2 linked regions of the Homo sapiens genome follow. The protein of the gene in region 2 purifies or fractionates together with the protein of the main gene of each other region. This does not show direct contact. Each region holds a gene or a part of one and is shown on either strand. Other genes may lie near its edges.

The links.
Region 1: the proteins of PAPOLG (region 2) and ZFC3H1 purify together in Homo sapiens (affinity purification with mass spectrometry; 2 studies listed by BioGRID and IntAct, with this or other methods). This does not show direct contact.

The regions. Positions count from the first base shown.
Region 1 is NC_000012.12:71,608,886-71,611,944, forward strand, and holds the end of ZFC3H1 (zinc finger C3H1 domain-containing protein), read right to left. Parts: intron 3,003-3,059; coding exon 2,901-3,002; intron 2,213-2,900; coding exon 2,173-2,212; intron 1,873-2,172; coding exon 1,810-1,872; intron 1,681-1,809; coding exon 1,543-1,680; 3' UTR 714-1,542; downstream 1-713. UniProt on the Homo sapiens protein: Subunit of the trimeric poly(A) tail exosome targeting (PAXT) complex, a complex that directs a subset of long and polyadenylated poly(A) RNAs for exosomal degradation. The RNA exosome is fundamental for the degradation of RNA in eukaryotic nuclei.
Region 2 is NC_000002.12:60,794,026-60,801,334, forward strand, and holds part of PAPOLG (poly(A) polymerase gamma), read left to right. Parts: coding exon 1-166; intron 167-684; coding exon 685-750; intron 751-938; coding exon 939-995; intron 996-3,036; coding exon 3,037-3,135; 3' UTR 3,136-7,309. UniProt on the Homo sapiens protein: Responsible for the post-transcriptional adenylation of the 3'-terminal of mRNA precursors and several small RNAs including signal recognition particle (SRP) RNA, nuclear 7SK RNA, U2 small nuclear RNA, and ribosomal 5S RNA.

The sequences.
Region 1 (3,059 bases), on a different chromosome or scaffold from region 2:
CTATTCCTCTGGGATTACTATCTTCCACCCACATTTTTTTTGGTTTTAGGGAAAAACCAGTAAGCCTCCAGCTTTCTTTTTGATTAAATGAAAGACACTAGACAAATGGATTCCATTCTTGGCCCCATCAAACAGCACTTACTAGCCAAATCGCCCTGTCTGGTAGGTACAGAATAGGGACTCAAAATATGGTTCTATTTCTAGTGAGCATTATACAAATGTAAACATGTACAAGTTTCCTAGTATTTCATGGGGTTGCTGCTCTGCCTCTAACAGTTCAAGCACATGTAGTTCTAAGATCAGATTTGTGCCAGTGTGCGTTGTGTCATTAACATTTTTCCTGCCAAGGTTAAAACAACCAAATATAAACTGAAAACAAAATAAAAAGCAAGGTCTCCTTTGCATTCAATCACACTGATATTCAACATAAGATGGCATGTCACTAGGCAAATCATTCAAACTACGGTTGGGAGGCACTTTCTAAACACTGAGAATTTGAGAACAAGGAATTTAATGGTAGTGCAAACCTCTCTGTTCACTGTCCTCACAACAGTATCCATCTTCTCATGAATTAAAAAGTCATTAATTTTTTTTTTTTTAATGGGAAAGCAGTTTCAAGATAAAAAAGTATTGCTATAAGTTATGGTGAATATCCGTATCTCCGACTTCAACCCTTTCCCACCAGTGTGAAAAGTGAATAAAGACAGCAAGAGTTTTTAGAAAGTTAACTTATATTAAAAAAGTATATAAACAATTTCAATACTACAAAGTAGTATTTCAATACAAAGCAGTTCAAATATTAACTGTTCTTTAAACTGTTAAACTTTATTATAAATTAAAATTTCTTTACAAAAAAATTGCACATAATATTTGACCACTCTTAGGTTCTGATGCACTGGCATTTGCAATAGTTTCTTTAATCTTCAAGTTAAACAGTCTCGGCAAGGAGTCCAGAACGTAGAAAGGGTAATAAACAACCCTGATAGAGCATTCAAGTGCAACTAGCAGACTTGTGGCCATGGCAGTTACACTTTCCTTAAGATGGACTGCTATAGTTTTAAATCCTGAAATGAAGAATCTCAAAAAAATTTAAAAAGGAAAAACTAAAAGGGACTGCCTGCTTTTTTTACTGTAAACACAGCCCTGGATATTAAATCCCAAACAGGAATCTCTCAGGCATCAGAGAGTGTCAAGTGAGTCAGGAATAACACAAAATAAAGGAATGGGGGAGAAAATAAAAAAAAACAAAGCAAAATTAAAATAAATGTCAGTCACTTTGAGGAACTATACTTACGTATATGATGTTATGAGAATCTGGCAGGGCCTAGAAGCAGGCCAAACAGGAAGTTCATTTATCCAACCGAAGAGGATCATGTTCATTGCTTCCGGTTTTGAGGACAGGATATTGTAGGGAACTTGATATGATCAATAACGCTTGTCTGCCTTACACAGACCTTAGCCAGGGATCAGCCTAATCTTGAAGAATCATTCAAATAATTTTGGCAATTATTATAAGGACTTAGAACTGACTGCACCCAGTGTTCAGTGATTCTTGCTTTCTGTTTTGTTACTGTTTAAATTTAAGAGCTCATTTAGGCTGACTCCAATCTCTTGGCACTTGGAAACTAGTTTTCTCAGGTTATCAGTTTTACCTCCTTCTGATGCTTCAAACAAGAGTTGCTGTAAAAGACAGGGAAGCATAGAAGTAAGACTTAGCTAGAGTTTGAGCATTACCACATCAATGGATATGGCACATGCAGAAAATTTACAGGAAAACATCGAGATAAAATAAAAGATAAAAAGCATTACATCTTTCCACAGTGATGCACAAAGAGGTAACTTCTGTAAGGCTCTCTGATATAAACGGTGGACCTGTAAGATAGATATACACACAATTCCATCAGAAAATATAATGAAAAACACCTTCATAATTCCATCTGTTTAAAGAATGGTAATTCACAATAACATCTGAGACAAAATGGTTATGCTGAGTTTTGGAGTTTCCGAATATTTGGTACTCTTAAAATGTTAACTACTTTTGTTTCCCCACTTGGTTCTTAGTGTGCATGAAATGTTAACTTCTGTGCTTTAATTCTTTTAAATTGAGAAGTCAACAAAAGAGACAGAAAAACTTTTTAAAAGTGACCCATCTGAGATTCAACCATGGCTTACCTCTCTTTGTCCCTTTAGAACAATCTCAGCAGCAATGGCTCTAAGAGAAAAAAAAAAAAAAAGAAATATAGAAAAAGGAAAAGAAAAATTTATATATCTTTGAACAAAATGAAACACCACCACTGGCAGAATACTGACTGTGGGAATCTGAGTACAAAACTTCCTGAAAGTTAACAGGCTAAACTTCCAAGGAGGAAAACCTATAGTGAAAAGAAAAATTCAACAATTTTTATCAACTTTACAAGAAAAAAGCAGACCAGTGTTTTGAACATAAATAACGTTCACAGGAGAAAAAAAAAACAACAACAACAACAAAAAAAAAACACCTCATAATTACTAGTCAAAAATACCTAGCACTAACACCTTTAAAAGAAAGAAGAAATCAGACTACAACAGGTGACACACCACCATTTCAAGAGGTGGTCTTAAAATGTCTGTAGCAGATTTGTTTGATAACAGTACTGTCACCTAAATGTTGTCCTTCAAAGAAAATTAAAAGTCTACGCTTTTTGCTTTTAGAGGCTATTCAATGAGTACTCACTCTCATTAAACCTCAGTAAATGCTAAAAACAAATCTAAATTAAGAATAGCAATCTGTCCAGGAAAAAAAAAAAAAAAAATATATATATATATATATATATAGATGTCATTTCAGATTTACCTGTCTGGAGCAAACCTTATAAATAAAAGCAATAGCTATAAAAACATGTACATGATTGTTGCATTACATTTTCCAGGTGGCCAGGCATGTTGGGATATTATATGTAAACATCTTGGCTTGAAGTTTCAGAATCTGAACATTGCTTTCTTCCCATTCATGTTGAAGTAACCTGTAAAGTACATTCAGGAAAATGAACAAAGCATTGCAAGTGTAACGAACCCCAAAT
Region 2 (7,309 bases):
CGTAGTAGGACGAAATGTCATTCCTAGAATCACAACACCTCACAACCCTGCCCAGGGACAACCGCATCTGAATGGAATGTCAAATATAACTAAGACTGTTACACCTAAGAGATCCCATTCCCCATCCATAGATGGGACTCCTAAGAGGTTGAAAGACGTAGAAAAGGTAAAGTTACAACTTTAGTGGTAATTCAGTAGTTGATATTTTTTATAGTTAATACTAAAGAAACAATTTTCCATAGCTGTTGGTGTTCTGTTAGGAGTTGGCTGAAAAGAATATTTACCCAAATCTTAAAGAAACAATATTAATTGCTCATCCTAAATTGAAATTACTAATACGTCTGAAAATTTGAATGATTGGTCTGAGTTTCTCCTTGATTTACAGAAGTCATTACTGATAACAAAATCTCATTTCTTGTGTGTTGATATGCCCTGCTTCCAGTAGGTGGTGGTAAAACTATATTTGTTAGAATCTGAATTGATTTAACCAAAAAGATCACCCAAACTGTAGAAATTAACGGTGGCAGTTGAATTCAATCTAATTTAAATTATCTTCTCTTACCAATCCATGTTTATAGTAATTTTTATAATAGTGTAACCAATAACTAGTTTTCCAGTTTATATAGATTTATATGGGTTTTTGTAGGTACATAATAGCAATCTATTTCAATGTTTATATTTTAGTTTATTCGACTTGAATCAACATTTAAGGACCCCCGCACTGCTGAAGAAAGAAAAAGAAAATCAGTGGTAAATATATTAATAGTGTGCTTCAGAATATTTATTGTAAAGCGCCATGTATCAGGAAAAGTGCCATATTAGAAAGTAGGTCAGATTAGATTTATTTTCAGGTTTTCGTTAGGTTTTATTTTAAGTAGAAATAAGTGTTTGCATATAGGAAAGTTAGTTTTCACTTGTGTTGATTCTTCTGTTTTTAGGATGCCATTGGAGGAGAATCTATGCCTATTCCAACTATTGATACATCACGCAAAAAGGTAACAAGATAGTCTTGTTCATAGGTACAGTACATAGGTAAAAACTCATAGGTAATCTACAAGTACAAAAGGCTTATTAAGAGCCTAGCACTGGGAAAAAGTAAGATTTTGTCCCTGTCCCCAAGGACTAGCAGTGTAGTTGGGGTTGGAGATAGCAAGTATATAGTTCTGAATGTATGTACCTCAAAAGTCTAAAAAAGAGGCAGTAGTTTAAGACAACTTTATTATCTATTTAGATTATGTTCACCCTTTGTTTTTTATCTTTAAAGAAGCAGTTGGATGCTCAGCACATTAATTTCTTACCAAGCACCTGGAGGTATATCTCTGTTGTGTACTATTGCTTACTGCCAAAACATAGGTTTGATAATTAGGAACCATATGTATTAATATTTTAGAGGAACCAAATGTAGTGGTATATATAGTAAGTACCTTTAAAACATGAGCTAAACGCCCCTAAATTGTAATTTAAATGTTTATTATTTGAAGAATTACTTTTATAACTAAAAATGTGTGTAGTATTAAGTGTGGTATGCTAAAAAGCAAGTACTCAAAAACCAGCCTTGTGTAAATAGAGAAAAACCTTCTCTGAGAGTTTATAATGAACAGAATGGCTTATTTATAATAATGATAAATAATTATAAATATATATGATGATAATTATAAATTATAATTTATAATAAAACAGAATGGCCATTAAATAGTAAAGTGCTTTTCATCAACTGTTACCCTGCCAGGTTCTCCAGGATGTAGTAGCTATTCTAAAGCAAAATAGTATACTCACAGGCTATTAGTTGTAGATTTTGAGCCTTTAACATAAGATTAAGTTACAAAAAATATGAACGTATAATTATGTGTCATGGTGGAAGAAAAAATTTTGAGATGGATATTGAAGTACAAAAGAGTGAAATGACATATCTGGATTTTTTAATATATCCAGTCTAAAGGGAAAGTGGGTACACCAAACAATTGCAGCAAAATTGTAATAATGTCTGAAACTTGGTTTTGGCATTTAAGTCCTTATTGCCCTGGTGTCTACTTCTTTGTATATCTGAAATTGCTCATAATTGTTTTAATGCATATGGATATGATACAGATACTGGCTTAGCCAAGGTAAAACAAGAGGAGAATTAAGCAGTCATCTCTTGACAAGAAACTATCCCCATTACAGAAGTCTAGATTTTGCCTTCCTTTTTTTTTTTTTTTTTTTTTTTTTTGGACATGGAGGCTCGCTCTGTAGCCCAGGTTGGAGTGCAATGGCGCGATCTTTTTGTATTTGTAGTGGCTAATTTTTGTATTTGTAGTGGAAAAGGGTTTCACCATATTGGCCAGGCTGCTCTTGAACTCCTGACCTCAAGTGATTCGCCCGCCTTGGCCTCCCAAAGTTCTGGGATTACAGGCGTGAACCACCATGCCCGGCCCTAGATTTTGCCTTCTTTATGTAATAATCTTTAATGCCCTCAGAATCCCTCAAACCGATGTCCCTGAATTTCATAACCATCAAAGTTATCTAGCCTAAGTACAAAGTTCAGTTTTCCTGAGAACTTAAGTATCTCACAGATTGAGTCAGTGGTCTTCTTCATGAATGTATTACAGAAACAAATTGAGGGACATAACTCTCAGATATTAAATTTTTCTCTACTGCACACACTCATTTTTCACTTCACACCCCAAGAGCTTCCTGTTTAGTCACCATGAACTTCCTTTTTTTTTTCTTTGCTTGACCTTAAGGACTGTGTTCTTTATGCATTTCTTGATCCAGGCATGGCAGTTCCTCTTTTCCTGTACATATTCACACTCCTGCCACTTCTACCCTTTCTCTTATCCCTCTGCTTTTCACCTCTGACTGTAAAAAGAAGTAGCAGTTCCGAAAGCAAGAGTTCCCTATGAACACGGAAGGAAATATTCATTGCATACTTGAGTGTTTAGGAGCTAGAGGGTTTGGGAGAAAAACTCCCCAAGTTTTGTGACTGACTTTCTAGCTGGGCCTTTATAATATATATGATGTGCTTTTCCTTTTTTGTTTCCTCTTTCTTTCTAATAGAGACTACCCAGTAAAGAACTACCAGATTCATCATCTCCAGTTCCAGCAAACAACATCCGTGTCATCAAAAATTCCATTCGACTGACCCTTAATCGGTAAAAGCAGTGCCTCCTCACTTAAGTGAACAAGCAATCATTTAGTGGCATAGATGCAGCCACTTGTTTTTTAAATAGAAGTGGCTGTCATACGTGAAATAAGGTGAAAGTGACAGCCTTCAGTCTAATAACCTTGAAGTGGTTTTTGAACTGTCAAACTTTGACCTGTAGATGCTGTAGCATTCTCTCACTGATTGCTACATACACTTCTCTGAGGATCACCTGCTGTCAAATTGCCATCTACAGTATTACAGCTTTGCATTTGGGGGTTTTACTGCCTTAACTTTCAATGCTTGTTATGGGAACCAGTTCTTAGCCACTTGGACACTGATAACAAGTCCTGAACTCCTTTTTTGTTTTGTTTTTTGTGTTTTTCTTTTTTTGTCTTATGTTGTAATCATTGTATAGAGCTAAAAAAATTGAAAACAAACAAAAAAATTGTCTTGTATTTTCCAAATGTTAATACATTTACTTTAGCATTGAAGCCACTTTGAAACCTGAGATAAATGAATGTGAGGTATCTTTTCTGCTTTCCTCATTTGTGTAGATGTACTGTCTGTTCTGTTGATTTAAATTATTTTTTTCCAGATTGGCACATGAAATATTTAAACTTTTTTGTGTGCCTTTCTGTCCAAATGTTGCATAGTTACCAGGGAAGATTAGTCCAGTGATTACATAAGAGTTGGGCACCATAAATTCTCTATATTTTGCCTCCCATGGAGGCCTTTGAAATGCATCTTTATTAAAAATCAAAATATAACCAGGATACTGAAAGTCAGTATATGAATGGTAAAATTGTTACATATCCTATTTCATGCCATTCTTGTTAGTTGACTGGTATTTTTTACTGAGGAGCAACTCATTCCAGCATCAACAATAAGATAACCTTTAAGTATGGCACACTTGTATTTTTGAGGTGTAAAATTAACTTGGCATGATAATTCCTGATCATTATTTACCCCACAACTTCAAATAGTTTCTTCACGGACTAGGCATGCAGAAATAAGCAGTGGATTTTATTGAAACCTAAAGGCATTTTGAATGACATTGTTACCAACCATTAATTGGCTCAGGACCTTTGTAATTTTTATTTAACTATATGAGTTGTCTTTTTTTACGCTGCTTTTTTCAATGCATTTCTTAATATTTTTTAAGTTTCATGAATGCATGCTCAGTTTATTAAAATCCATAACCATGTAATTCTTGTAATATGTTGATTCAGTGTTTTGTAAATGAAGTCGTATGTATTTTCAGAGTATTTTTGTATGTACTGTAAGATACCATCTTTTCAAAGAGAAACGTTTAAAACCTTTATTGTCTCTCCTTAGTCTAATTTTTTAAATATGGATTATGCTTGAATTACTATATTTAAAATGAAAATGTATAGATTACACAGCCAGGAATGCTAGTATCTACCACCTTCTTTAGATTTCACTCAGCATTTAGTAGGTCCAGTAGGAAAAACCCAAAATGGTACATTGAGTAGTGTGGGGAAGACACCTCGTGTATTATAGGACTCACGGGATGCCATCTAGCAAGTGGAGAAATAGCAGTCCATTTTCTCTTGCAAGCCCTTTACCATTGAGTTGAAATTCTTGAATTGCCAGAGAGCCGTATCCTCCAGGTCCCACTCCTGTTCATTGCCCCTTAGGTCTCCAAAATGTAAATTCTAATGTTTACCTTGTACCATGGAAAACATGAAAAGAGTCTTAGAAGTAAAGAACAACAAGGAAAAAAATGTTTGTTCTATTATTCCCTTTTTATATAGCAGCAAAAGATAAGAATAAAATCACATAACCAAGTTGAAGCTTCCTTGGCAAAGCTGTTGTCTTAGCTGACTCTTTCCCTTTATTCAGATGTTTTGGGATTGTTCTACAAATAGTCTATTTGAGCAAAAATGAATGATTATGAAAGAACCGAAGAATTATCACCTGACTTCAACTTTTGAAAGCTTTAGTAAGGAATTTGATTAAATTTTATATACTGGATGTGTATGCATTTCTGCATTTCATATCTTTTGCTTTTAAATCAGCCTTCAAAGTATCTTTAGGAATTCCTTCTGTATCCATGTTTACCCCATTATGTAAATAGATCTTTGGAGTGACTAGTGGAGTTTTTCTTTAATAAGGAAGCAACAAGTCTAACCTTGTACTATAGGATAGGCATTTATTTTAGATTAAGGAGCCCATTCAACATGTCAATGAGTCAACATTAGAGTCCTCAAAGATAGCATTCTTCAACCTGTTTGGTAACTGAGGAGTTGATAAAATACTTTTGAGATGGTGGGGTTTGTCAGAAATAAAATATTTTCTATCCTGACCAGTAGGTAGAACTTTGAGTACATTTCGTTAACTTGGTGGGAAGCTTCCATTGTACTAGTTCCAAGTAAAAAAGGAGAAAGTATGATCTGGGATTTTGTGTTATGATGAGAGGCACTAAGTACATGTGTTTGTTTTGTTTTGTTTTGTTTTGTTTTGTTTTGTTTGAGACAGAGTTTTGCTCTTGTTGCCCAGGCTGGAGTGCAGTAGCCCAATCTCGGCTCACTGCAACCTTCACCTCCCGAGTTCAAGCTATTCTCTTGCCTCAGCCTCCCAAGTAGCTGGGATTACAGGCACCCACCACCTCGCCCAGCTAATTTTTGTATTTTTAGTACAGACAGCGTTTCACCATGTTGGCCAGGCTGGTCTCGAACTTGTGACCTCAGGTGATCCACCTGCCTCGGCGTCCCAAAGTGCTGGGATTACAGGCGTGAACCACCGCACCCGGCCGTGTTTGTTTTCAAGTGTGAAAAAATACCTAGAAGTATATTTTATGAAGTCAAATAATCTGTTCTTCAGTATATAGACACATGTTCATTTTCACAAGGGCATTACATTTTAATTTGCTCATTTTTCAGTAGCTCTGGAGAATATGTATGAAAGGAAAACAATTACCTGCTAGCTTAAACCTTAGGGACTTAACCAATTCAAGATAGAGGTACATGGCTTAAAACTTTGTAAAACTGGGACAGGAGAATTATTATTTTTTTATTTTTTATTTTTTTATGAAGACAAGAGTTTCACTCTGTCACCCAGTCTGGAGCACAGTGGCATGATCTCACCTCACTGCAACCTCTGCCTCCCGGGTTCAAGTGATTCTCTTGCCTCAGCCTCCCAAGTAGCTGGAATTACAGGCCTGTGCCATGCCCAGCTAATTTTCGTATTTTCAGTAGAAATGGGATTTCACCATGTTGGCCAGGGTGGTCTTGAACTCCTCACCTCAAGTGATCTGGCTGCTTCGGCCACCCTAAGTGCTGGGATTACAGGCATAAGCTACTGTGCCCAGCCAGGAGAATGAATTTTAAAAATCTATGTTAGTGTTTAAAATGAGTGCTTTGTTTTAAAGCAGCAATTTAGTAGCATTATTAAAATGCTTACTTCACTATAGTAGCAATTAGGTAAAGATGGGCAATATCAAAATGGGCTAAACTTATTTTCCACTATGTTCCACACCTTTGAAATAGGAATTCCTAACTTGAGAATCATGAACCCTTAGGGAATCCTTTATAATTGTGTATAAGAAGTTCTAGTTTACATGCATTTTTCTTGGGGAAAGTGCATAGTTTAGATCAGCTTCTCGAAGTGGCAAAAGTATGGGAGTTAGGGTTAGGAACCACCAGGATTGAATAATCCTGGAATATTATATAATTTTCTACTTTTGATTTTGCTGTGGTATATTTCTGAAAATGTGCTGTGGCTCCTAACTAGTAAAATGGGCTGGTGAGGGACTCTGGAATTCTGAATTTCTAAGTTTATAACCTAAAATGAAACTGTAAAGTCCTCGGTATTTAGAAAAATGCTTAATCTCAGATTTACAGATGGCCTCATGATAACTTAGATTCGTTAACAGGGTCAAACTTTAGTTCAACAAATTTCAACCCAATATTATCACAGTACAATAGCTTAGAATGATCATTAGAAATGGTAGAAAATAGAATAAATCATTAAAGATCCCAAAATGTTGAGTTCTGTAGCATGAAAACTCTCTTGCTCCTCCATGTTTGTAGTTCAGGCCAGAACAAACTAAACAGACCAATAAATATAAAAGTGATAGTTTAGGGAAAAAAAAAAACTTTGTATAAATAAAATTGTATGTGTGTTCAAATAACTACCTATTAAATCATCCAAAGCTTAGAATTT